Linked DNA regions of Homo sapiens: all the other regions are linked to region 3. The links come from fine-mapping of genetic effects on gene expression. A gene starts in region 3. Each other region holds a variant in brackets. All regions are shown on one strand. Distances are from middle to middle.

Region 1 (8,227 bases), 170 kb before region 3:
CACTGTGCATCTCCTGCCTCCCTCCATAGCTGGTGTCCTTATATCATGGTACTTGCCACAAGATTAAAAGCAGGAGGCACCTTGGGTTAGTGTGGCGGTTGGGGAGGATGTGACCAAAGGAAGGTTTCTACTTCATATGCAACTATAAAAATATTACCAACTGTCTGACAAGCAGGCAGAAAATACCTTGGGGAAGGTGCCCATATATTCCTCAAGATGCAAATTTTCTACCAGGGTCTAACCTTACTTTCAAAGCCAGGCAATGTATTTACCTTTGTTTTATGTCACTCATTCTTACTGTATTACATGGTGCCTGGCAAGGAGAGATTCCTTGTGTTTTGCCAAGTTGCAGGGTCAGGAAACTCTGCATGAAACTGCTGGATTAGCATCCTGTAGAGTCACTGTTAACAGAGCTCTTTGAATGAAATGGGTTTGCATCTCTGTTCTTTGGGGCTTTATAAATTCACCAAGGATGTACGGTTCCCAATCTGTTTCACCACCACCTCCCGAGTACTCTGGATAGTTCCTCCTCCTGAGAGGATGGCCTTGAGAACAAAAGTATCTCATAACAAATCACAGCAACACCACATTCAGCAGCAGATTTCCTCAGAGAAACAGCAGATATTTCAGAATGGTAAAGAGGTCATTCTGAGTGGAGCTTTGGCTAGCTTAGGAGACAAACCTCACTGGCATGCCAGTGTTTGAAACTCCTCATTTCAGCAATCCAACTTTGGTTTATTCCTGGCCCTGAGTCCTTTGTGCCTGAATCTCTGAGAAATCTATGTTTTTGTTCAATCCACCTCTGCTCCCACTTCATGCCCTGCTTTCCTTCCTGATGACCTCAGAGCTCTGCTTCCTCTGGGATCCAACATCTCACCACTCAGGGGGCACATAATATAGTAAAGAGTGGAGTCTGAATCCCAACTCTGCTACAAGAGCTGTGTGACTGTAGGCAAGTCACTTAACTTCTCTGTGCCTCAGTTCCTCACCTGCAAAGGACAGGTAAAAATATTCCCACTTACCTCATGGGATTTTGTGACAATTAAATGAGGTAATACATATAAAGCACTTAGGAAAGTTACAGACCCATGAGAAAGCCTCAGAAAATGTTTACAAACTCTTGGAAGTCACTCTGCTGACTGGTAATAAGCTGGGCTCATCTAGTACACACTTCAGAGACTCTTTTCTCATATTCAGACTCCTGGAAGAGATCCCATCTCATCTGTGCCATTAGCATCCAGGGTCACTTTGTCTTTTCTGGAAGACTCAGAGAGATAACTCTTGTTTACCCACTAGCAATAATACTGCTTGGCAGTTAAACTGTGGCCACTACATACACTCAAGCAAATGGAAGAGATATACTACAATAAAGGGTGTTTTTCTAGACTGTACATTCCAAATGAAGCCCATTATTCCTAAGTGTCTATCCCAGCTGAATGGCAATGACTGAAGCCAGGGTGAAATGGATGAACTCACATAGTCTGAAAGAAACAAGGGGCCACAGTCACATTTCTAAAAATAGACATGGCACATCAGGAAAATCCTACCTCAACTTCTGCCCCATGTCCTTGACATACATTTAACCCATTGCACAATTATAGTGACTAGTACTTACTATAAGCAGGCAGTGTTCAAGGCATCTTATGCAGATTTTCTCACTGCACAACAATCCATAAACTAGGTGGTAGTTTTAGTACTCCCATTTTAGAGATGAAAAAAACTAAGGCACAGAGAATTCAATTAAGTTGGCAAAGGCTGCAACACTTGTGAGTAGCAGGGCAGCCTGGATCTGGAGCCACTCTTAAACCACTGAAAAATTTAAAAGTGCAAAGGGCATTGAGAACATACAGAAGGAAAAAAAAAAAAAAGGCCGTGGTTGTGGGGAGGGGGGTGGAATAGCTAGTTACATGTCCAAGGGATTTGGCTTCCTTCAAAAAGGGAGACCACCAGTGGTGCTTAGAATTTTTAGCTTTCAGAAGAGTCCTGGATTGATCTTTTAAGGTTAACATGCAAACAGTCTTTCATTGCATGGAGGCCTTTCCAAAAGTGGATACAACCCTACTCTGTGCTGAAAAACCTGAATGTAGGGTTTCTAGAGCTTCATGTCAGCTATTTCCAATACTTGGATATGGGGCAGTTGTCACCCCTTTAACCTCATGGACAATCTGATGAGCTTCCTGTGAATTGCTGGGATTGGGCAGATAGGCAGAGTGTTGTGGAACCACTTGCAAGACCCAGGAGTGCCCAATCCTCCCTAGGTCAATACTTTACAGTTATTTTGTGTTTGGGATTGGTGGAGAAGAGAAAGGATAATGACTCAGGCCTGCTGGGTCTGCAATAGCCCTGGCCACCAGCGCCAGCCTTCTCTCCCCCATTCTTCCATGTATGGCTGACATCACTTGTAAGTCTTTGCTGCACCTCAGCCTCACAAGTCATGTCAAGGTCATGCTCCACTGCCAACTGAATTGAATTGAACCAAAAGATGAACTCAGTTTGCTATCTTGGCTTTCCCACTTTCTTAAGAACAGATCCCATTGGTGATGGGGTAGATCAGGTAGTAAAGTCAAGGTGCTGAGGACTGATGTGTCCCTTGAGTTCAGCAGAAGTTAGATGCGAAAGGGTGAAGAATGTTCTATAATGAGTATAAAGAGTTCTATCGATGGGTTTCAGACAGACGATCCATATGCAAAGAATCATATGTAAATCAAGTAAAGGGTAAGATTACCCTAGCAATTGGTTGAACACAAGGACAAGTGTTTGGCAATAGGCAATACTGTTACATCCCTATTTTGTACCAGATGCCATGCTAAATGCTTTCCATGCTATCTAAAATAATCATGAGATAGATGTAATTTGAGAGACAAGAAAACTGACAACACAGTAGCCTAAATAACTTGCCCAAGGTCATACAGTTAATAAATGATATAGTCAGATTTGAAGCCACATCTATATAATCCCAAGGTCTCGAATTTTAACCACCAGACTGGTGGCTCTCAATCCTGACCTGTACATTTGAATCACATAGGGAATTTAAAAAATATATCTATACCCAGACGAGGTAAATCAGAATCTCTGGGGGTGGGGCCCAGGCATCTGTATTTCTTTTTTTTTTTTTTTTTTTTTTGAGACGGAGTCTCGCTCTGTCGCCCAGGCCGGACTGCGGACTGCAGTGGCGCAATCTCGGCTCACTGCAAGCTCCGCTTCCCGGGTTCACGCCATTCTCCTGCCTCAGCCTCCCGAGTAGCTGGGACTACAGGCGCCCGCCACCGCGCCCGGCTAATTTTTTGTATTTTTAGTAGAGACGGTGTTTCACCTTGTTAGCCAGGATGGTCTCGATCTCCTGACCTCATGATCCACCCACCTCGGCCTCCCAAAGTGCTGGGATTACAGGCGTGAGCCACCGCGCCCGGCATCTGTATTTCTTAAAGATCTTTCCAGTGGTTTTGTTGACCAGCCAGGGTAGAACTGCTGCTCCAGATTCTTCTTCCTCTAGGTAAACAGGAGTCAGAGGTATCAGAGATTTCTGCCCATGGGACTCAGAGCCCTAACCTGGTCCCAAACTTGGGTGTGGGATTCTAATGACTGGGAATTAACAAGACAGGACGCTAGTTCTATAGGAAATTGAATACAAGTAGGACCCTAGCCATAGAAACAAGAATAATGATTTTAGATAGTAAAATCAACATTCAGAGTCAGAATGGACCCACCAGAAAGCTCAATCTAACACTGAGCTCCTGAACGAGGCTCCTTAAATTTCTTTAGATTCCCTGTGATTAGAAACAGGAGAGGCACTAATGGCTGCAGGAGGGCTGAGTCTACAGATGAGGATCTCTCATCTACAGATGAGGATCAACTGACCCAGTGGTGAG[G/A]AGAAGAGAGCTCTATGGGCTTCTCACAGGCAGGTCGTCACCTGTCCCGCCTCCAAGCAACCTGCTCTGAGCCAACAACATGTTTCCACACATTTCACACTGCTTGGCTCATTCTGCTGGACTCCAAAGGGCTTTACTAAGTTGAAGCAAAGAGAAAAAAAAACAATCCATGTTGACTGTTTGGAGTGTTTTCTCTGTTTTCAGAAGTGACTGTTAGATTAGTATTTGGTTTTATCTTCTGCATCTTCTAATATTTTTATCTCCTCCCCATCCCTACCTCAAACTGCCAAGCAGTGATTCCTGCTTGACAGTAGGAAAAAACATCTCCGAGTCTCGCAGCCCCTTCCTGGAGGGCTTGTTTTAGAAGCAGTGCAGGACATGCCCAGCTTAGCCAGGCCACGGGGCTAATCGAATTTGGCAGATGCTCTGCGTCAGCAGGCACCAGGGTGCTAATGCCCTGGGTCAGCTGGTGAGAGGGTAAGTGGGCAAATGCCTGGCTTCTTCCCCGTGTTTTCAGGACAGGAATCTGAGTCCCAGTAATCACTAGCCTATGGGACCAGAGGCTATTTTGGGCCTTCTTTTATCCAATGGAAAGTTAGGGGTGGTGACATCTGAAACTGCCAAGGAGCATCCAGTTTCACCCTTATCCAGGACATGTCCCTAGAGGAAATGGAAGCAATGTCAAGGAGACCAAAACGCGGGTGTCAGAACTTCCCTTTGTTTTTATTTCTGTGCCGTTTGTTTTCATCCATTCCTTTCACTTTCAGCTCACCTTTCCACTACTCTGGTTCAGGTCTTCATTGCATCTCGCCTGGGCTATCACAGCAGCCTTCCAACCCATCTCTCTACCCCCAATCTCTCTACCCCAACCCACTTCCAACATCCTCCCATGATAGCAGAATGATCTCTCTGAAGGTTCAATGACAATAATGAACATGAAAACACTTCGTAATACGTTACACAAATAGCAACACCTACCTATACACAAATGTACCGATGTGGCAGGAGAGACAGAAATGCTGTCTTTAATCACTGTTGACTATGCAGGTGTAAAGGCCAGTGCATTGCAAGGGAATGAAATCGATAGACTAAGAGGAATGTTTCTGGGAAATAATGGTCTAAGTTGGCACACACAGTATTGGAACCCTCAAACGAGTCAAAAAGGCATTCAAGGTGGACTTGCCTGCTTGGCAATTGTATGTCACTGTGATAAACCTGATGAGAGATGTAAGATGTAGATCTAATTATGCCTATTTTTCAGGTAACTGAGGCTGAGAGAGGCAGTAATTTGCAGAAGATCACTCAGTGAGCATATAGCAGAACTAGAATATAAATTCAGAGGACATATGCTTTTCAAGTGTGCCATATTGATACAGATACATTAATGTGGATGGATGGATGGATGGATGGATAGATGAATGGATGAATAGAGCATATGATTTCCCTCCCTTTAATATATCAAAGGGCTATCCATTGCTGACAGAGTAACAAATTGGTGATATTGGCATTATGGCCTTATAGGATGTAGCTTTATTTTCCTACTTTAATGTCCAGACAACTTCCAACACACTTGACAGTGCACTCCAACCCTACTTCTCCCTATTCCCTAAATGTACCTTACACTCTACCTCCTCTGCATCTTTGTCCATTCCCTGTCTCCCTCTCTGATTATAAAATCCCTACCCAACCATAACCCATAATAGGGCTGCCAGAAAAAACATCAAACCAAATGAATAATTGTTTAATATAAGTGTGTGCAAATACTCTATGGAACATATTTATAGTAAAAAATGATTTGTATTAATTTAAATTCAAATTTCACTGGGTGTCCTGCAATTTTAATTGTAAAATCTAGCAAACCCACACATCAGGCAGTTGCCCCATGTATACCCTCTGGTTTTCTTCTGCCATCTCAAGGTGGGATTTAGCACTTCTTCGAATTTTTCATACACAATTCACTCTCACTGAATAATGAGCAATGTGTATTTTATGGAAGACTTCTTAATAAATGTGAAAATGAAGTTTACATTCCATAATTGACATTTTATTTTTAACAGTTCTTATTAAAAATGGCCTTATGGCTGGGCATGGAGGCTCAGGCCTGTAATCTCAACACGTTGGCAGGCTGAAGCAAAATGATTGCTTGAGACCTGAAGTTTGAGAACAGCCTGGGCAACATAGCGAGACCCTGTCTCTACAAAAAAATTAAAAATATATATATATAGCTGGGTGTGGTGGCATGTGCCTGTAGTCCCAGTTACTCAGGAGGCTGAAGCGAGAGGGTCACTTGAGCCCACGAGTTTGAGGCTGCAGTGAGCTAAGATCATGCCATTACACTCCAGCCTGGGTGACAGATTGAGATCCCATCTCTAAAAGTCATTAAGTGTCCTTTTGACCATTTCCCTACACAGCATTTAGTGCTGATCACCTGCTCTCACTCTATTATGCAGAGAAGCTTTCACTTTTCAAACCTAGGCACTAGTCCACGGCTTGTTTGTATACCATGGTAGACTTATCAAAGCAAATTTTCGATTAGGCAGGTTTCTCTTAACAAATGAATTTTCTATGAATATAAAAAATGTTTCTATATGTTAAAGGTTCAATTGCATGAAGCCTTTAGCATTTTCTTGGGTAAAATAATTGCTCCCTTACTAAGCTGCAGTTATTTGTATAAACTCTTCTAGAGCAGTGGACATTTTCATTCACCTGTGTACCCACTGCAGTTCACCTAGCCATGTACCGGAAAGCAGTCAACAAGTGTCTATTAAATTGAATGAATGCAGTGTAAGGCCACATTATAAGTGTATTTAGCCCTAAGTGGCTACAACATTGTTTGCAGCAGCCAAGGAAGGGATCCCAGCAGTCAGGGAAAGCAACTTGATAGTTTAATTGAGTAATTCTCCACCCTAGTTGCACATTAGGCATCTGGGGAGTTTTAAAAAAATTATGAATTGTAGACCCCATCCTGCATCCCTGCATCAGGTAAATCAGAATCTCTGGGAGTGAAGCTCAGGCATCAATATTATTTTCAAAGCTCCCAGGTTATTTTACCAGGCAGGAAAGGTTAAAAATGATGAACAGTTGCTGGAGATTTGGACTAGTATTCTTCTCTGGGTCTAATCCATGACAGAAGAGAGAGACCAAGATAATCAGAGGGAGAAATACGGATTTCTTTTTGCTTTTCCCTGTTGTAGATGTTTTAGAGTTTACACTGTTCTTTCACATGCATGCACATCTTGCCACATCCCACCCCCACCACATAGTCTGGCCACTGAGCCTTGAGCTGTGTGTTCACTTTGTGAGTGTGAAGAACAACATGGCTACAGCCATTCTATGTAAATATGCAATCTTAGTTTTGGCTTGGTTGAGTATTGCTTCCCCAGGTTCCCAACTCCACTTTTACTGTTTTAGGTTCTGGTTTCACCAAGAATTCAGTAGCTGTGGTACTTCCCGGGTATGAGAGAATAAAGAACTTGTAAAGTGGAATTGGCCAGCTTTCCACACCCCTACCTTCACTGCACACCAACCTGCACTGACATCCAGAGGAGAACCAAGGGAATTGTTTCCTCCTGGTTTGGACACATTCCACTTGAAGCTCCTCCAGGCATTGTGAAGCAGAATTCCCTTCAGTATATGTGACTGCAAAGAGATGAATTTTTGAACTGGAGACTTTGAAAATAAGGATGAGCATGTACAGAGTGAAAACATGGGCCTCGAGTCAGCAGATTGAAATCCCTGACCTTGCTCTGTACGTCTCTAGCCACATAAGCTAAGCAGGTCTCCCCTCACTTCTTTCAGCTTTGGTCTTCTCCTCTGCAAAAGGAGTTTCTTCACCCATTTGTATTGTTTTAACAGAATTGCTGAGACTGGGTAATTTATAAAGAATGGAAATTTATTTCTGACTGTTCTGGAGGCTGGGAGGTCCAAGATCATGGCACCAGCAGGTTCAGCTGTCTGGTGAGGGCTGCTCTCTGTTTACAAGATGGCACCTTGATGCTGCATTTTTCAGATGGGAGGACACTGTGTTCTCACATCGAAGAAGGGATGGGAGAGTGAAAATGGGCCAAACTCTCATCAAGCCCTTTTATAGTGGCATTAATCTGTTTACCTAAACATCTCCCAAAAAGGCCCCACCTCCCAACACTGTTGCACGGGGAATTCTTTTCAACACATGAATTTTGGAGGGACCATTTAGACCATAGCCAGGACGATGCAGAATTTGAGGATCTTAAGGTTCCCTCCAGCTCTAAATACTTCATAGATTCTAAGTCCTGCAGCAGTACATGAGAAGTCTATTGAGACTCCCTAAACCATTCTCAAGAAGGTAAAGGCCCAGAGCCCTGCCTACACATGTGCTC
Region 2 (8,227 bases), 150 kb after region 3:
ATTAATTCTCTAATAATTTAAAAGGAAATATTTTTCTCCTGTCTTACTTTTTTCCCCCTACCCTGGTGAGGGAGACCACTTTCTGTGAGAAGTCCTTGATGTTATTTTCCAATTCTTGAATAATTTTTTTATGGCTACCTTATTTTAAATTCCAAACATTCTTTTCTGTTTATTCCTTTTTCATAGCCTCCTATACTTATTTTATGGATGCAATATCTTTTTTCATCTCTAAGGACATTAGTTGCAGTTTTTTTTCTTAATTGGCTCTGTTTCTTCCAGATGCCTTTTTTTCTTCATTTTCTCTTTTTCTGAGGTTTTATTAGAGGTTTTCCTCAAACGTTTTTTAATCCTTGTCTGACATTTATATTTGTTATATGAATTCCTGTCTGTTCCTATTTAAGAATAGGGCATTAAAAGGCTGAATAGAAGCTATGTGGGCATAGGTAGGGCTTGTTGATGGTGGATTTTTTATTGTTGTGGGTAGACTTCCAAATACCTGGAAGTCTTTCCCCCTTAGGCTGTTCATTTTCTCAGAGAAGGATCTTCTAATCTTCCGGAGAGATATAAGCCTAGCTGCCAGCATTCCGGAGTAGGACCTGGGAATGTAGTTCTGTATATCACAGTTCATTTCTTGGTAAACTGTCACTTCCTGTGTTTTCAGTCTAGCTAGTTAGTGTATAAGCTTCATTCTCCTTAGTAGCTAGTGTTCCCCTATGCTGAGCCCTTCCAGGATTCTGCAGGCTGAATTTTTGTTGTTGTTGTTGTATTTATTTCAGCATTTAGAAACCTTTAAACAGTAAAAGAGAAAAAGAAAAAAAAAAGGCACTCAGAGGAAACAGAGCCAATTAAGAAAGAAGAAAAAAAATTGCAACTATCATTAATGTCCTTAAAGATGAGGAAAAACACTACATCCATACTGTCCTAACTCCAGTACTCTCCTAAGTCAGTTGTTTCACCTCTATCCTCTCTGCACCATCCCAAAATTTGTAGGAATCTGTGGTTAACCATTGTATTCTCTTCTGTTTGCCCTTGTGGATTTGTACATTTTTTCTTAAAAGAAATTCCTTTGCCATCATCTTAGCAGAGATTGGAGTGGGAAAGGAGATAATTCTGTATGATTAATCTGCTATGTTTAATTGGACATCCTGAATTTAGTTATGAACATATTGACATAAGGGGGTGTTACAGATAAAGGTTTGTTGCCCAGATGAGAAGTGTAGTTTTGGGAATATTTAGACCTTATTAGTTTAACATAATCATTGAAACTATGGAGGTGAATAGCATTTCTCAAGAAGAGTCTGAAGCATGACATTCTTTTATTCCTTCATTCCACCCATATTAAGTGCCTGCCATATTTGGCCCAGAAAAGATAGACTAGGATGGAATGTAGAGGTTGAGTATAAAGGTAAGGCAGAAGGAAAGAAGCCACTGGAAGACCAGTGAAAATGGTGGGAGGTGCAAAAGAGGAAAGTGTGCCACAGTGAGAGAGGGGAGCTTTCAGGAAGGGGAAGTAGAAGGTCTTCTAGAATATCAAATGCTGTGCAAGCAGTCAGGTAGAATGAGCAAGGCATTCTAGTATGTATTGAATTCCTAGCACTATGCTAGAATCTGGGGATTCTAGTGGTAAACAAGACTGAACTAATCCTGAATCTGTTAGCATTTACATTCTAGCAGAGATTACAGTTAAAGCCATACTTACCTTAAAGCACAAGCTGTGAGGGCATATGAGGAGGTAGCTAACCTTTGTTGGAGTCAGGAAAAGCTTCTGGGACAAAGTGATTAAGCTGAGACTCAGGCTTGAGGCACCCGAATAAACAAAACTTAGAATTTAATAATTTTGGAGGCTGGAGAGTAAGGAATGGACTTAGAACACTGGTGGTTCCCTATGTAACCTTTCTTTCTTTCAGATTCCAAGGATAGGTGATATGACAGCTTTTGAACATCAAAGGGACTTTCAGATGCTTGTATATATTGACACATTACTACAAAGTTACAAAGGAAATTTCTAAAATCCTGGTCATTTGTAAAGAAAATATTTAACATTCTATGGGAAAATATACTTTGAGGTTTGATGACAAACATAGGCCATCTGTGGCCTCAGAGTAATAAAGATGGGGCTTCTTATTTTGAAAATAAATTGCTAATGATCTAATTAGCAATTCAAAGCTTATTCTTTCATGGACTTGCTTATTATGATACCTAAGGCCTAGGTGAATCAAGAATACAGTAGTTATGTTACACTAACAAATTACACTGTGATTTAAATGTAATACCTCAAACTATAACAATCCTAGAAGAAAACCTCAGAAACACCATTCTGGATATCAATGTTGAGAAAGAATTTATGACTAAGTCCTCAAAAACAATTGCAACAAAAACAAAAATTGACAGATGGGACCTAATTAAACTAAAGAGCTTCTGCACAGCAAATGAAACTATCAACAGAGTAAATAGACAACCTACAGAATGGGAGAGAATATTTGCAAATTGTGCATCCAACAAAGGTCTAATATCCAGAATCTGTAAGTAACTGAAACAATTGAATGAGCAAAAAAAAAAAAAAAAAAAAATTAAAAGGTGAGCAAAGGTTATGAACAGACACTTCTCAAAACAAGACGTACAAGTGGCCAAGAAACATGAAAAATGCTCATCATGACTAATCATCAGAGAAACGCAAATCAAAACCACAATGAGATACCATTCTCACACCAGTCAGAATGGTTATTATTAAAAAGTCAGAAAACAACAGGTGTTGGTGAGGCTGTGGAGCAAAGGGAATGCTTATACACGTTGGTGGGAATGTAAATTAGTTCAGCCATTGTGGAAAGTAGCTTGGAGATTTCTCAAAGAACTTAAGGCAAACTACCGTTTGAACCAGCAATCCCATTACTGGACATATACCCAAAAGAAAACAAATTGTTCTACCAAAAAGACACATGCATGTGTATATGTTCATCACAGCACTATTCACAATAGCAAAGACATGGAATCAACCTAGGTGCCCATCAGCAGTGGATTGGATAAAGAAGATGTGGTACATATACACCATGTAATACTACACAACCATAAAAATGAACAAAGTCATGTCCTATGCAGCAACATGGATGAAGCTGGAGGCCATTATCTTAAGTGAATTAATACAGGAACAGAAAACCAAATACTGCGTGTTCTCACTTATAAGTGGGAGCTAAACATTGAGTGCTCATGGACATAAAGATGGGAACAGTAGACACTGGGGATGACTAGAGGGGGAAGGGAGGGAGAGGGACAAGAGTTGAAAAATTAAATGTTGGTTACTATGCTCGGTACCTCGGTGGGCGGGTGGGGGTCATTCATACCCCAAACCTCAGCATCATGCAATATATCCAGGTAGCAAACCTGCCCATGTACCCTGGGTCTAAAATAAAAGCTGAAAAGGAAAAAAAGAGTGTTTTCTCAAGCTCTAAAAAAAAAAAAATAGTAATACACTTTATGACAAAAAACTAATTTTTCTTTCTCCAAAAAAAATATAGTAAATGATATTCATGTATTTGCCGTGGTCATTAATATCATAAATTAAATTCATATGTTGGCTTGAGGGAAAAAACACAGTTACTTTACAGTGAATATTTACCTACTACTATTGATAATGGCAGTCTGCCTAAGAGAGCAAATTTTTCAGAAAGGGCAATTGTATCTTGAATTACCTTTTAAAATTGAGAAGGGAAAATATTCAATTATCTGTCATTTGGGAGAAAGCTATGCCTTATGCGCAGAAGTCAGAGGGAACACTACCCTTTCCTTTGCTAGAAACAACAGAGCCACCTCTCCCTTTTCTCGTTCCTGGGCTCTTAGCTGATAGAATGCGCGTATGACCTTGGAAAAAGAAAGAGCCTCTCCCTTCCTCCTTGTTTCATGTCCCTGGGAACCACCTGAGGGGCAGCTGGAGATGGAAACTATCATTGTTTCTCTGGTGGTGGCAGCACAGGGTGGCGTGGGAGTGGAATGTGTTCTTAGTTGGAAAAATTTACCAAAACAACCATCCAGTACATACCAGTCTGCAACTCCCTCTCCCTGGGCCAAGAGTTTTCTTCCCTTTGTATAGGCTGAGATGCAAAGTGCTTACATAGGTAAATCTAAAAGGTAAGTCTTGAAAGATATCTCTCAATAAAATAGAGGAAATGCTCACCGGTTTATTGGTTCAATGAAGATGTTAGGCTGATGTCAAAGGCCCGTTTCTATCCTAAAAATTCTATTTTGTGTGGTTCATTTTTTGTGTTTTTAGTAT[G/T]TGAACATTGGTCACTGCTTATCTCTAGTAAAGGTGGTGAGGACAATGTCATTCCCATCTTGAAAGAGTGGGTGGTTCATAAACAACTGACTTCAGGAAGCCTTCCTCTGGGCCAAGCCCAGTTTCTGCTGAGAGGCACCCTGGCTCAAGAGAGCTGTAGGGACTCACCTGAGGTTAAAAACATGGTCTGAGCCAGGCACAGTGCCTCATGCCTGTAATCCCAGCACTTTGGGAGGCCGAGCCCGGTGGATCACCTGAGATCAGGAGTTCGAGACCAGCCTGACCAACATGATGAAACCCCATCTCTACTAAAAATACAAAAATTAGCTGGCAGTGGTGGCGGGCGCCTATAATCCCAGCTACTTGAGGGGCTGAGGCAGGAGAATCACTTGAACCCTGGAGCTGGAGGTTGCAGTGAGCCGAGATCGTGCCACTGCACTCCAGCCTAGGCAGCAAGAGTGAAACTCCGTCTCAAAAAACAAACAAAATACATGATCTACTACCTACGCTGTGGGAACTTAGACAAGTCTCTTAACCTCTCTAAGGCACAGTTTACTCTTCTAAAAAATGCGCTTAATAATACTTGCTTCATAAGGTGATTGCAAAGATTAACAAACCATGTAAAGTACCTCATACAATATTTGACACATAGAAGATGCTTAATAAATCATTTTGTGTACTTGTTAATAACAGCAGTAGCATATGCCTACTGACAAATTATGTGATGTTACACATTTTCCAATACGTGATGCTTTATGGGATTTAGAAGCTTTAATGCAATCAGTTTCTTTGTTGTGATTTTGCAGAAATCTTCCAAATGAATTCTGTAAGGGAACTCTAGACATATGTTGGTTTTCTCTGGCTAGATTGATTTGCCTAATTAAATTTGATGCTTTTTTTTTCTTTTTTTTAAATTATACTTTAAGTTCTAGGGTACAATGTGCAGGTTTGATACATAGGTATACATGTGCCATGTTGGTTTGCTGCACCCAGCAACTCGTCATTTACATTAGGTATTTCTCCTAATGCTATCCCTCTCCCAGCCCCCAACCCTACAACAGGCCCTGGTGTGTGATGTTCCCCACCCTGTGTCCAAGTGTTCTCATTGTTCAATTCCCACCTATGAGTGAGAACATGCAGTGTTTGGTTTTCTGTCCTTGTGATAGTTTGCTGAGAACGATGGTTTCCAGCTTCATCCATGTCCCTGCAAAGGACATGAACTCATCCTTTTTTATGGCTGCATAGTATTCCATGGTGTATATGTGCCACATTTTCTTAATCCAGTCTATCACTGATGGACATTTGGGTTGGTTCCAAGTCTTTGCTATTGTGAATAGTGTCGCAATAAACATACATGTGGATGTGTCTTTATAGTAGCATGATTTATAATCCTTTGGGTATAAACCCAGTAATGGGATGGCTGGGTCAAATGGTATTTCTAGTTCTAGATCCTTGAGGAATCACCACACTGTCTTCCAGAATGGTTGAACTAATTTATACTCCCACCAACAGTATAAAAGTGTTTCTATTTCTCTACATCCTCTCCAGCATCTGTTGTTTCCTGACTTTTTAATGATTGCCATTCTAACTGGCATGAGATGGTATCTCATTGTGGTTTTGATTTGCATTTCTCTGATGACCAGTGATGATGAGCGTTTTTTCATGTCTCCGTTGGCTGCATAAATGTCTTCTTTTGAGAATTGTCTGTTCATATCCTTTGCTCACTTTTTGATAGGATTGTTTGTTTTTTTCTTGTAAATTTGAGTTCTTTGTAGATTCTGGACATTAGCCCTTCTTCAGATGGGTAGATTGCAAAAATTTTCTCCCATTCTGTAGGTTGCCTGTTCACTCTGATGGTGGTTTCTTTTGCTGTGCAGAAGCACTTTAGTTTAATTAGATCCCATTTGTCTATTTTGGCTTTTGTTGCCGTTGCTTTTGGTGTTTTAGTCATGAAGTCCTTGCCCATGCCTATGGCCTGAATGGCATTGCCTAGGTTTTCTTCTAGGGTTTTTATTGTTTTAGGTCTTATGTTTAAGTCTTTAATCCATCTTGAGTTAATTTTTGTATAAGGTGTAAAGAAGGGGTCCAGTTTCAGCAGTTTCAGTTTTCTGCATATGGCTAACCAGTTTTCCCAGCACCATTTATTAAATAGGGAATCCTTTCCCCATTTCTTGTTTTTGTCAGGTTTGTCAAAGATCAGATGGTTGTAGATGTGTTATTTCTGAGGGCTCTGTTCTGTTCCATTGGTCTATATCTGTTTTGGTACCAGTACCATGCTGTTTTGGTTACTGTAGCTTAGTAATATAATTTGAAGTCAGGTAGTGTGATGCCTCCAGCTTTGTTCTTTTGGCTTAGGATTGTCTTGGCAATGCGGGCTCTTTTTTGGTTCTATGTGAACTTTAAAGTAGTTTTTTCCAATTCTGTGAAGAAAGTCATTTGTAGCTTGATGGAGATGGCATTGAATCTATAAATTACCTTGGGCAGTATGGCCTTTTTCACGATATTGATTCTTCCTATGCATGAGCATGGAATGTTCTTCCGTTTGTTTGTGTCCTCTTTTATTTCATTGAGCAGTGGTTTGTAGTTCTCCTTGAAAAGGCCCTTTACATCCCTTGTAAGTTTTATTCCTAGGTATTTTATTCTCTTTGAAGCAATTGTGAATGGGAGTTTACTCATGATTTGGCTCTCTGTTTGTCTGTTATTGGTGTATAAGAATGCTTGTGATTTTTGCACGTTGATTTTGTATCCTGAGACTTTGCTGAAGTTGCTTATCAGCCTGAGATTTTGGGCTGAGATGACAGGGTTTTCTAAATATACAATCATGTCATCTGCAAACAGGGACAATTTGACTTCCTCATTTCCTAATTGAATACCCTTTATTTCTTTCTCTTGACTGATTGCCCTGGCCAGAACTTCCAACACTATGTTGAATAGGAGTGGTGAGAGAGGGCGTCCTTGTCTTGTGCCAGTTTTCGAAGGGAATGCTTCCCGTTTTTGCCTGTTCAGTATATTGGCTGTGGGTTTGTCATAAATAGCTCTTATTATTTTGAGATACATTCCATCGATATCTAGTTTATTGAGAGTTTTTAGCATGAAGGGCTGTTGAATTTTGTCAAAGGCCTTTTCTGCATCTATTGAGATAATCATGTGATTTTTGTCATTGGTTCTGTTTATGTGATGGATTACGTTTATTGATTTGCAAATGTTGAGCAAGCCTTGCATCCCAGAGATGAAGCCAACTTGATCGTGGTGGATAAGGTTTTTGATGTGCTGCTGGATTCGGCTTGCCAGTATTTTACTGAGGATTTTTATATCGATGTTCATCAGGGACATTGGTCTAAAATTCTCTTTTTTTGTTGTGTCTTTGCCAGGCTTTGGTATCAGGATGATGCTAGCCTCATAAAATGAATTAGGGAGGATTCCCTCTTTTTCTATTGTTTGGAATAGTTTCAGAAGGAATGGTACCAGCTCCTCTTTGTACCTCTGGTAGAATTCGACTGTGAATCCATCTAGTCCTGGGCTTTTTTTTTGGTTGGTAGGCTATTAATTATTGCCTCAATTTCACAGCCTGTTATTGGTCTATTCAGAGATTCAACTTCTTCCTGGTTTAGTGTTGGGAGGGTGTATGTGTCCAGGAATTTATCTATTTCTTCTAGATTTTCTAGTTTATTTGCGTAGAGGCGTTTATAGTATTCTCTGATGGTGGTTTGTATTTCTGTGGGATCAGTGGTGATATCCCCTTTATCATTTTTTATTGCATCTATTTGATTCTTCTCTCTTTTCATCTTTATTAGTCTTACTAGCAGTCTATCAATTTTGTTTATCTTTTCAAAAACCAGCTCCTGGATTCATTGATTTCTTGAAGGGTTTTTTGTGTCTCTATCTCTTTCAGTTCTGCTCTCGTCTTAGTTATTTCTTGCCTTCTGCTGGTTTTTGAATTTGTTTGCTCTTGCTTCTCTA
Region 3 (6,054 bases):
ACAAACAAAAAACGGTGGAAGAGTGAAAAGATAAATTTGCTTTCTGCTTGAGCTGGGACATCTGTCTTCTCTTCCCCTCAGACTTCACTGCTCCTGGTTCTCAGGCCTTCAGACTTCGACCAAAACATCATTGACTCCCCTGGGTCTCAGGCCTTCAAGTTTGGACTAAAACAAATCCACTAGCTTTCCTGGGCCTTCAGCATGTAGATGGAAGATTGTCACTTAGTCTCCATAATTGTATAAGTCAGTGCCTCACAATAAATCTCTTTCTGTATTTCTATATATATCCTATTGGTTCTGTTCTCTGGAGAACCCTAACACACTGGGCATTTCATTAAGTGGAATATTATATAGTAATAAAAATGAAGTTACAAGCCTCATAGTTCGTGAATGTCGATTACACTCACAGGTTGAGTGAAAAAGCAGGTTGCAGAACAGTACGCAATGATGTTGATTTATATATGAAAAACAATGCTGTTTATTGTTTAGGGATACATGCATACGAAAAGCATGAAAATATGCATGGGAATTAACTACAAAGTTTAGGAAACTGCTTACTTCTCAGGGAGAGGAAGAAAAGGAATATGATTGGGGAGTGGTACAAAGGGAGCTTCAACTACATTCGTAATATTTCTTAAGCTGATTGCTGTTAACTCTTTTTCTAAGTCGAAATAGTTCATAAAAAGTGAAATTCTACATGTTTGAGGACTTTTATCCAGTCAATCATTACAGCACTCAGAGCCCCCACTGTATCTGAGCTGTTGTTGTAACAGGGCACCTTGAACCGTTCACCCAACAGGTAGGGCCTCTGCATATACTTGTTCAGGTTCTATGTTTACAAGAGTTCTTGGGTAAAGGGGTGGTAGAACCGAAGTCCAGCTTATCCATCAGTCAACAAGTCCTGTGTGCTCTGCACAAAGACACCAAGGCAAGTATCACTACGATAGGGTACTTTCTTCATGGCCCATAAGCTCCATGCCACATATGCAGAGGGGTTGCAGCCCAGTTCTATTTTTTATCTAGCCTGTGGATGCCGCAAATTTACTTACACACAACCAATGAAAACTTTAAGAGGAACCGATCTGTAGACAGAGACCCTATTATTTTTTGCTTGCCGTCAATTTTTATTTGGTTTATCTCAGTATCTTTCCAGTCCTTATGATTTATTTAAGAGCTGATCATTTTTCTCTAGTTATCTGAGATATTACCTTAATCACTGGTTTTTTGTTTTTTGTCTTTATACTTTCTTGGGACATCTTATCCAAGAGATGGAGACTAATTGACCAATGTATCTCTAATGCAAAGCATACAAAATGTACCAAATAAGAAATACAAACACTTCAATATATCTTATCTTTTCTGTTCCCTACCCAAGTCTTTTGTTCCTGATCTTTTATCTTCTTGGCTAAGCTGCAAATTTGAATCTTCCTTTCTTACATTTGTCATCTAATAGACAATAGGAATTTATTTTTTAGTAAAATCTGCATCTCCCCTTTTTTCAAAATATAAATCTCTCCTTTCACCTAAGTTTTCAGCCATAAGATTTTATTATTTGAAGACAAAGAATAAAGTTCTCCAAGTGTGGTTCATGAATCACCTGTGTCACTTTCACTTGCTGTGCAACAAAATGCTGGTTTCTGGGCCCCACTTAGGCCTACTAAATCATTCTGCATTTTTAATCAAGATTTGCATATAAGCCGGACTCCGTGGCTCATGACTGTAATCCCAGCACTTTGGGAGGCCAAGGCAGGTGGATCACTTGAGGTGAGGAGTTTGAGGCCAGCCTGGCCAACATGAGAAACCCCATCTCTACTAAAAAAAAAAAAAAAAAAAAAAAAAAAAAAGTAGCTAAACATGGTGGTGGGCACCTGTAATACCAGCTACTGGGGAGGCTGAGGCAGGAGAATCACTTGAACCCGGGAGGTGGAGGTTGCAGTGAGCCAAGATCACGCCACTGGACACAGTGAGTGAGAGTCCGTTTCAAAAAAAAAAAAAAAAAAGAAGAGATCTTAAAGAAACGATTACAGAAACTAACTTTACAATTTCTTCCTTATTTGTTCATGACAGTTGCTAGAAAATAATGGAAATGATTTAGACGATGAAAGCCTATTTAGGGAAGGCTCTAAGAGTACCAGATTAGGAGCCAGGAGCCCAGGAGCTGTTCCGTGATGATGTTGGGCAGAACACACTCTCTCTCGAGCCTCAGATTTCTTATCTATAAAACCAGAGTTTTCTGGGGGTCTTTAAGTTGTCTTTCAGCCCTGCAGTGAGAGGAGATATGTCATTCCTAAAACTTGAAATGAAGGCATATGTTTATTTATTAACTCTCTAGCTTCTAGACAGATTTACTGTATGTGACTTATGTGCCCAACCTGACATTATCTTTTAGATAAACTCCCAAATACAAAGATGATAAAATTTTTTCATTTTAAACTTATAGGTCTGCATCAACCTGTTTCCATTGTCCTAAGTTTTATTTACATACGATGGCTAGTCAACTTTATATGATAATTATCTTTAAATCCTGCTTTTTTTTTTTTTTTTTTTTTTTTTTTTTGAGACAGAGTTTTGCTCTTGTTGCCCAGGCTGGAATGCAATGGCGCGATCTCCAGCTCACCGCAACCTCCGCCTCCCGGGCTCAAGCAATTCGCCTGCCTCAGCCTCCCGAGTAGCTGGGATTACAGGCATCTGCCACCACACCCGGCTAATTTTGTATTTTTAGTAGAGACGGGGTTTCTTCATGTTGGTCAGGGTGGTCTAGAACTCCCAACCTCAGGTGATCCGCCCGCCGCAGCCTCCCAAAGTGTTGGGATTACAGGCGTGAGCCACCGCGCCCGGCCGAATCCTGCTTGTTTTAATGTATTCATTAAAAATGTCTCCATTATAGAGTAAAACGACTCAACGCCATGGCAGAGAGCAAGAAACGAAGTACCCTTAAAGCCGTAGTTGGTACAGGTAATGATTCCGTGGGGTCTATTAGGCCACAGGGACTCAAAATCCAGAAGAGGAGGGAATGCTGATAATTACCTAACACCAACGTTGCTGCTGGCTTCTCAGCCGTAGTCACCTCCCACTCAGATGTTTTGGAAATTGTCCAGTGTTCAGAAACATCACTTTCTCTGACCTTTTACAAAATTCCTGTGTTTCAGGATTTTAAAGTGCGTGAGAAAGGAGTCTAATTTGCAGTCACCAAAAACACCAAATACAGAGAGAGGACTGGGGAGAATGAATTGCTAAGACTTAGCTACCAAATGTGTATCAAGATAGGTGTAAAGATCCCAGGTGAAGTGAGGCACTGGAGAGGGTACACTTTTAACTTAGTGTATAGCTAAAACCCAAAGATGTGTGTCAGATCGAGGGAAACTTTTTTCCTCCTCTTCAAAATCTTTTTTCCGTTTGCAGAGCTCCAGACGTCCTCGCCCTTTGGAACAGCGGAGAGTCATTTAAAACTTAACTGAACGCTGGAGGGAAGTTCTACTTACCAGGTCATCCAATTTAGGAGATCCAATTTCTGCGGAGGGAACAAAAAGACGGGTGGGGGAGGGAAAAACTAGACCCCTTGTCCTACTATCCTTCTACCTTCAATCCACAACCTGCCAGACAAATCCAGCCAAGTCAAGATTTTGCCTTGAACCACCACCACCACCACCACCACCACCGCCGCCACCACCACCACCACCACCGCCGCCACCACCACAACCACCACCACCTTGTCACTCACGCCCGAGAAACACGCCCCTCTGGTCCTCCTCTTGGCCAATGGCGGCTCTCCTCTCTGCATAGTAATGAGCTCGAGACCTCCCCGGGCCAATGGCGCTCCGGGAGAAGGGATACTTTTGCATGTACCTAAGTGATTTGCATAAGCCAGCGGCCGGGGGTTTGGGAACCAGAGCGTGCAACCCTAGAAGGGAAAAGGACGGGAAGAGATTGAGCCGCGGCTGGGAGACAGCGAGCCAGAGTCTGGGTGTTTGTGCGAGAGCCACGGCGGGGGCTGGGGCGAGTGGCCGGCATGGCTGAAGGCTGCGCTCTGCAACCTTGAAGAGCCGCTGCATTGAGAGGCCAGGGACAGGGAGACCGGTGCGATGGCAGAGCGCGGCCCCCGCCGCTGCGCCGGGCCGGCCCGGCTGGCGTGAGCCGCCGGAGGAGCGGGGCTGCCTCTGCGCGTCCATGGAGCAGCGGGAAGGGCGAAACTCCGGAGCGCCGCGTCCCTGCGCCGCTGCGGCGGACTGCTGAAGGGGCCGAGCCCGCGCGGACCGCCGAGGAAGAGACCCCCGCTCCAGCCCGCAGGCCGGCTGCCCGGGGGCGGCGGGGGACATCGGAGGGCAGCGGAGCGAGCAGCGCCGCGGGAGAGGCCGGCGCGGGAGGCGGCCGCAGCAATGCCGGGCCCGCTAGGGCTGCTCTGCTTCCTCGCCCTGGGGCTGCTCGGCTCGGCCGGGCCCAGCGGCGCGGCGCCGCCTCTCTGCGCGGCGCCCTGCAGCTGCGACGGCGACCGTCGGGTGGACTGCTCCGGGAAGGGGCTGACGGCCGTGCCCGAGGGGCTCAGCGCCTTCACCCAAGCGCTGTGAGTGCGGGCGGCGGGGACGCGAGGGGGGGGGAGGAAACGGGGCCCAGCGGGGGGCGCCGCGGGGCGGAGCCAGGGGTCAGTCCCACCCCACCCCGCCCCGCCGCCGCCCGGGCCTGGGGAGGGGGTCCGCCGGTCACCTGCGTGCGGGCTGCCTGGCACCCACTCCTGTGCCACGGGCTTTCCGCACTTTGCTAGTCCGGGTTCGAGCCAGCAGTAGCTTTCGTTCCCAGACTTTTTGGGCACAAGCACCCTCCCACCCCACCGCGCACACCCCCAACTCACAAGTGCATCTGGGGCCAAGAAGGAGGAAGTAATCTAAAAACGCTTGCCCCTGGCAGCCTGTCCACGCGACCTTCCCTTCTCATGAGGGCCCTCGCTCAGCGGGCAGGAGTTCCGCTACTGGCGGGGCTGAGGGCGCCGAGAACTTGGCCTCAGTCTGCATACCGAGGCATGTCTCGTGGGGAAGCACCTGGAGCCTCCTGGGTTCCAGCATGTGGGGAGAAGAAACACCTGTACCTCAGTCAGGGCGAATCTCCTTCCAATTTGGCCCCATCCAGGTAGTGCGTCCCGGCACCTACCTCGGCCCAGTTCCACTCGGGACTACCCCACTAACGCCCAGGCTTCTGCAGCACGCAGGGGAGTCCGAGAAAACAAGGGAGAATTACAGGGTTCTGTTGGTGGACATGCTCTTACCCAACAAGGCCTTTTAAAGAAGGAATGCTGACCTGAGGTGCAGGATGTTGGAAGAGAAGCAAGTTCCGGAGCATATGCTCAGCCCAGGCTGCAAGGTAGCAGCAGGTTTCTAATGCACCTTCACGCAGCCAGCAGATCTTTTCTTTTGAGCTGCCTGAGATCGAGAGACACACTGAAATGTTTCAGACTTACAAAATCGCCCTGCCAAAACGGACTTGAGAGCTTTAGACGTTCCCTTGAGAAAAGAAGAGGAATCTGAACTAGGTTGTGGAGGTGGTGGCAAAGGCCACGGATAGAGGAGGAACAGGGTAGGGTTTTTGTGTTCTTATTGCTTCTTGCGTTGCGTGGCCAGCTGAATGCTTAAATCAGGAGCAGTCGAAGAAACGTGTGAGAGAGGAAGGGATCCTGAGGGGCCCTAGGGTAGAGGGAATTTCCTTTTACCTGTAGTGGAAGGGACCTCTTAGAAATAGACAGTTTTAAAGGACCCTGTGAAGAAATCTTTATGCAGGCAGGAGCATTGCTGTATTTCCAGGTGGGTGGTGGCAAAGGTGTTCCGCTTGCCCTCTCAGGATGGACTTTTAGTGAGCATCGAGGCCTGTTGTCTTGGAACCTGTTTCATTCTTCTACCTTCAGCCTTCCCCTCCCCATTTGTTATTTTTCCTGTCTCAGGTTAGTTTTAGTTATGTATTTGAGGTTTTTTTTTTTTTTCAGTATAGTGAAGTTTAACTTGTCATTAAAAAAAAAAGTTAACTTTGCAGTGAAGAGCATTTTGTTCATAAAGTTACATTAAGTGGGAA
Region 4 (4,000 bases), 21 kb after region 3:
AAATTTCCTGTGCTTCTTCCTTGTCTTCCCAGTTTTCCATGGGCTCAGTACTTTGTTGAAATTGTAGGAGATAATTTGTGGAGGTGAATAAAAATGTTTAATGCAAATAATTTTGCTTTTTTTTTTTTTTTTGAGACAGAGTCTTGCTCTGTCTTCCAGGCTAGAGAGCAGGTGGCATGATCTCGGCTCACTGCAACCACCACCGCCCTGGTTCAAGCAATTCCCCTGCCTCAGCCCCTGATGTAGCTGGGATTACAGGTGCATGCCACCACATCTGGCTAAGTTTTAGTATTTTTAGTAGAGACAGGGTTTCACCATCTTGGCCAGACTGGTCTCGAACTCCTGACCTCAGGCAATCTATCTGCCTTGGCCTCCCAAAGTGCTGGGATTACAGGCATGAGCCACTGTGCCCGGCCAATAATTTTATTTATTCAAACTATTCTTTGAGAGCTACAAATATTTGTATAATGGTTCATGGAATTGTCAACCCAAAAGTATCTGTGACAGATCTCAATCAATTTAGAAAGTTTATTTTGCCAAGGCTAAGGACTTGCCTGTGACACAGCCACAGACAGTCTTGAAGACGTGGTTGGAGTACAGCTTACTTTTATACTTTTTAGGGAGACATAATATATCAATCAATACCTGTGAGATGACATGGGTTTGATCTGGAAAGGAGGGACAAGTTGAAGCCAGGGAGCTTCCAGGTTATAGGTAGATTTAAAAATTTTCGGATTGGCAATTGGCTGAAAGAGTTTAGTTTTTATCTAAAAGCCTGGAATAAATAGAAAGGAATGTCCGAGTTCCAATGATAAGGGATTGTGGAGACCAAAGTTTTATCATGCAGATGAAGCCTCCAGGTAGCAGGCTTCAAAGAGAATAGATTGTATTATAAATGTTTCTTATAAGTCTTCAGGTCTGTGTTGATGCTAATGCTGGTTGGCTCTTACTAAATTCCAAAAGGGTGTAGGATATAATGAGGCATGTCCAACTTCCCCTTCCCATCATGGTCTGAACTAGTTTTTCAGGTTAACTTTGGAATGCCTTTGGCCAAGAGGAGGGTTCCATTCAGAAGGCTGGGGCCCTTAGAATTTTATTTTTGGTTTACAGAATCAGTACTCTTTCAACTTTAAAATAATAATTACTTACTGAGATAATAAGTCAGAACTTTAAAAATTAATTTGTTCAACATTTGTTTATTAAGTGTCTGATGTGTTAGGGACTGTTTTTGGTGCTGGGGACACAGAATTGAACAGTATCTGATGCCATCCTTGCATTCCTATAACTTACCTGGCAGGGGGGTGGGGGATTAGTGGTAGACAGTAAATAAGCACAATGAATATAAAAGGTCAGGTAATGTTACATACCATCAAGGAAAATAAAGCAAGATGAAGGTGGTTTGCTGTTAAAGTAGGGTAGCCAGGGAAGGCTGGAATGAAATTTAGATATTAAGATAATTAGTCAATATCTATAGGAATATGAATCCATCTTAAGCAATGGCAAAACAAAATTTAAAAAGTTCCTCTTGGCCGGGCGTGGTGGCTCACGCCTGTAATCCCAGCACTTTGGGAGGCCGAGGTGGGCACATCATGAGGTTGGGAGTTCGAGACCAGCCTGGCCAACACAGTGAAACCCTGTCTTTACTAAAAGTACAAAAATTAGCTGGGCATGGTGGCAGGCGCCTGTAATCCCAGCTACTCGGGAGGCTGAGGCAGGAGATTTGCTTGAACCTGGGAGGTGGAGGTTGTGGTGAGCTGAGATCGCACCACTGCACTCCAGCCTGGGCGACAGAGCTAGACCCTGTCTCAAAAAAAAAGGTTTCTCCCTACCCCATAGTGACAACTTAATTAAACATAAAAGTCACTGTGCATGTAGGAACATTAAAAAAGAAAATAAAAGATAAAAGAAAAAACATAAAAAGGTTTGAAGTCAATGTGGCAGAATAAATTGGTATGTCAATACAACAGGCTATTACACAGAAGTATACAAACTATTGATACACATGACTATGGATAGTTTTCAACGGTATTAAGGCTGAGTGATTAAAACCAAGTTCAACAGTGAAACACCGTCTCTACTAAAAATACAAAAAAAAAAAAAAAATTAGCCGGACGTGGTGGCGGGCACCTGTAGT[C/A]CCAGCTACTCGGGAGGCTGAGGCAGGAGAATGGTGTGAACCCGGGAGGCGGAGCTTGCAGTGAGCCGAGATCGCGCCACTGCACTCCAGCCGGGGCGACAGAGACTCTGTCTCAAAAAAAAAAAAAAAAAAAAAACTCAAAAAGTTGTATACTGTATGATTCCAGGTTTACTATAAATGACAAAATTATAGTGTTGGCGAACAGACCAGTGGTTGCTAGGGTTGGAGATAGGAAAATGATGCGACAGAAAAGTGTCGCAGGAGGGCATTTCTTTGCAGTGGTGGAGCAGTTCCTTACCATGATTGTAGTGGTAGTTACATGAATCCATCTGAGTAGGGTCTGTAGCTTTAGTAAATAGTGTTGCATCAAAGTAAATTTCCCGGTTTAGCTGATATATTATGGTTATGTAAGATGTTGCCATTGGGAAAAGCTGGGTGAAGGGTATGCAGGAACTGTCTGCACTAGTTTTGCAACTTCTAGTGAGTCTTAAACCATTTTTTAAAATAACAACAACAAACATACCAGATCTGTTGAGAGTCCTGAGAAGTCTTAGCCATGGCCTTACCCCTTAAAGAAGATGAGGAAACTGAGTCTCTGAGGTAAGATGACAGCCTGAGGTTGCAGAGCCAGAGTCTCAATCTAGATCTTTTAACTTTCACATCAACATTATTTTGCTCCCTGAGAGCATAACCAGTTTTAATTTGCTATTGAGCAATTGTTGGAAGATTACGTGGGTGTCCATTTTTTCCCCCAGCTTCATGCCCACATTCCCCCCAGCTATGTATGTGTGTATGTGAATTCTCTTTTATGTTCTAAAGCAGAGAAAGTACAATATGCAAATTATGCATTAGGTTTATAATTTAAATGGTTTGAATCATATTTTTGAATGGAATGGACATGGCTCTCCTATTATGAAAGTATTTTATTACTGAGTGCTTGGTACAGTCTTAGTATGAGGAATGACCTTGGATCTCTGCCTGTGAATTAGTAGCTGAATGGTGTTTTACTTCTGATGATTCAGTATATTTGCCTTAATTACTGGATTAACCAATTTCTTGCCTCCCACTAAAAGCACACACATTTATCTAAACAGGGGATGAATGAATGAAGTTTTAGGGACTAATTTTTGTGGTATTTAAGCAACAATAGTCTAGATTACCCACAACCTTAATTTCCTTTCATGAGTCTTGTAGATGGGCTTTGTCACCATTTACACTTGATTACTTCATTGTTAACCCCAGTGATGTGATTTAGCATGCAAAGACTTAATTATTCCTTTCTGGCCTAGTGAGAAATTTCCTTCCAATAATTGCCTCCACTGCCCTTTAGCCTCCTTAAAACATTTAGTTTGTTTGAAACAACTTGGTTGCTCAGTAAGCAATTCCAAGCTCAGCAGTGCCTGGCGCTGTCTTTGGACCATAATTTATACCTTTGATATAGTGACTTAGGCCTCAGTTCTTAAGTGATGTCTGGTGGGTACTCTTCATTAAAATAGTGGTGTGAAGCATTTGTCTGAAGTTATGGTTCCAAACTAAATGGTTCTAAACAGTTCTCTGGTGGTCTCTTTAAATTTAACATTTCCTTATTTTAAGTGAAAAATTGTGCTAACTTTGGAAATAAAAGTTGACTCTTTAAACTTTAGTTTTAAGTATTGAAAAGTACCGTTCATTTAGTTGTGAATACTAAAAACTGTAGTGTTTTTAAGAAGTGTTTTTGTAAGGAGTCCTAGAAATAGTATAGATCCTTACATAACCTAGAAATAGTAATCCTGGAAGTAGTATATAGATCATTACATAACCTGCCACTGGACATTATTTTGTCCCAGGGTATCAGACTTGTTGGAGAAATTGAAAGGTTTATGAAGA

Which allele goes with the higher level. Alleles are on the strand shown, and positions count from the first base shown. SD is a standard deviation of normalised expression in the study named. Not every link is listed here.
For the expression in testis of the gene that starts at base 3,889 in region 3, G is the low allele of the variant in region 2 and T is the other (small effect, 0.12 SD a copy in GTEx).

Evidence for each region.
Region 1: its variant is fine-mapped to the expression of LGR4 in whole blood (INTERVAL, PIP above 0.99).
Region 2: its variant is fine-mapped to the expression of LGR4 in testis (GTEx, PIP 0.95).
Region 4: its variant is fine-mapped to the expression of LGR4 in whole blood (TOPMed, PIP above 0.99).

The regions. Positions count from the first base shown.
Region 1 is chr11:27,642,326-27,650,552 of GRCh38, reverse strand. The region is part of intron 3 of BDNF-AS (BDNF antisense RNA); the gene reads right to left. Among named protein-coding and RNA genes, the nearest start is that of LINC00678, 12 kb to the right of the region's middle. The variant G/A (reference allele first, on the strand shown) is at 3,870.
Region 2 is chr11:27,324,536-27,332,762 of GRCh38, reverse strand. No RefSeq gene overlaps it. Among named protein-coding and RNA genes, the nearest start is that of CCDC34, 35 kb to the left of the region's middle. The variant G/T (reference allele first, on the strand shown) is at 4,268.
Region 3 is chr11:27,470,625-27,476,678 of GRCh38, reverse strand. It overlaps LGR4 (leucine rich repeat containing G protein-coupled receptor 4), which reads left to right and starts at 3,889. Exons shown (of 18, transcript NM_018490.5): 1 at 3,889-4,561. The coding sequence starts at 4,377. LGR4-AS1 (LGR4 antisense RNA 1) reads right to left here and starts at 4,948. Exons shown (of 4, transcript NR_131170.1): 1 at 4,847-4,948; 2 at 3,722-3,901; 3 at 3,483-3,511. RefSeq lists silencers at 4,116-4,165, 4,296-4,465, 4,716-4,775.
Region 4 is chr11:27,450,894-27,454,893 of GRCh38, reverse strand. All of the region lies in intron 1 of LGR4 (leucine rich repeat containing G protein-coupled receptor 4), which reads left to right. Among named protein-coding and RNA genes, the nearest start is that of LGR4-AS1, 19 kb to the left of the region's middle. The variant C/A (reference allele first, on the strand shown) is at 2,135.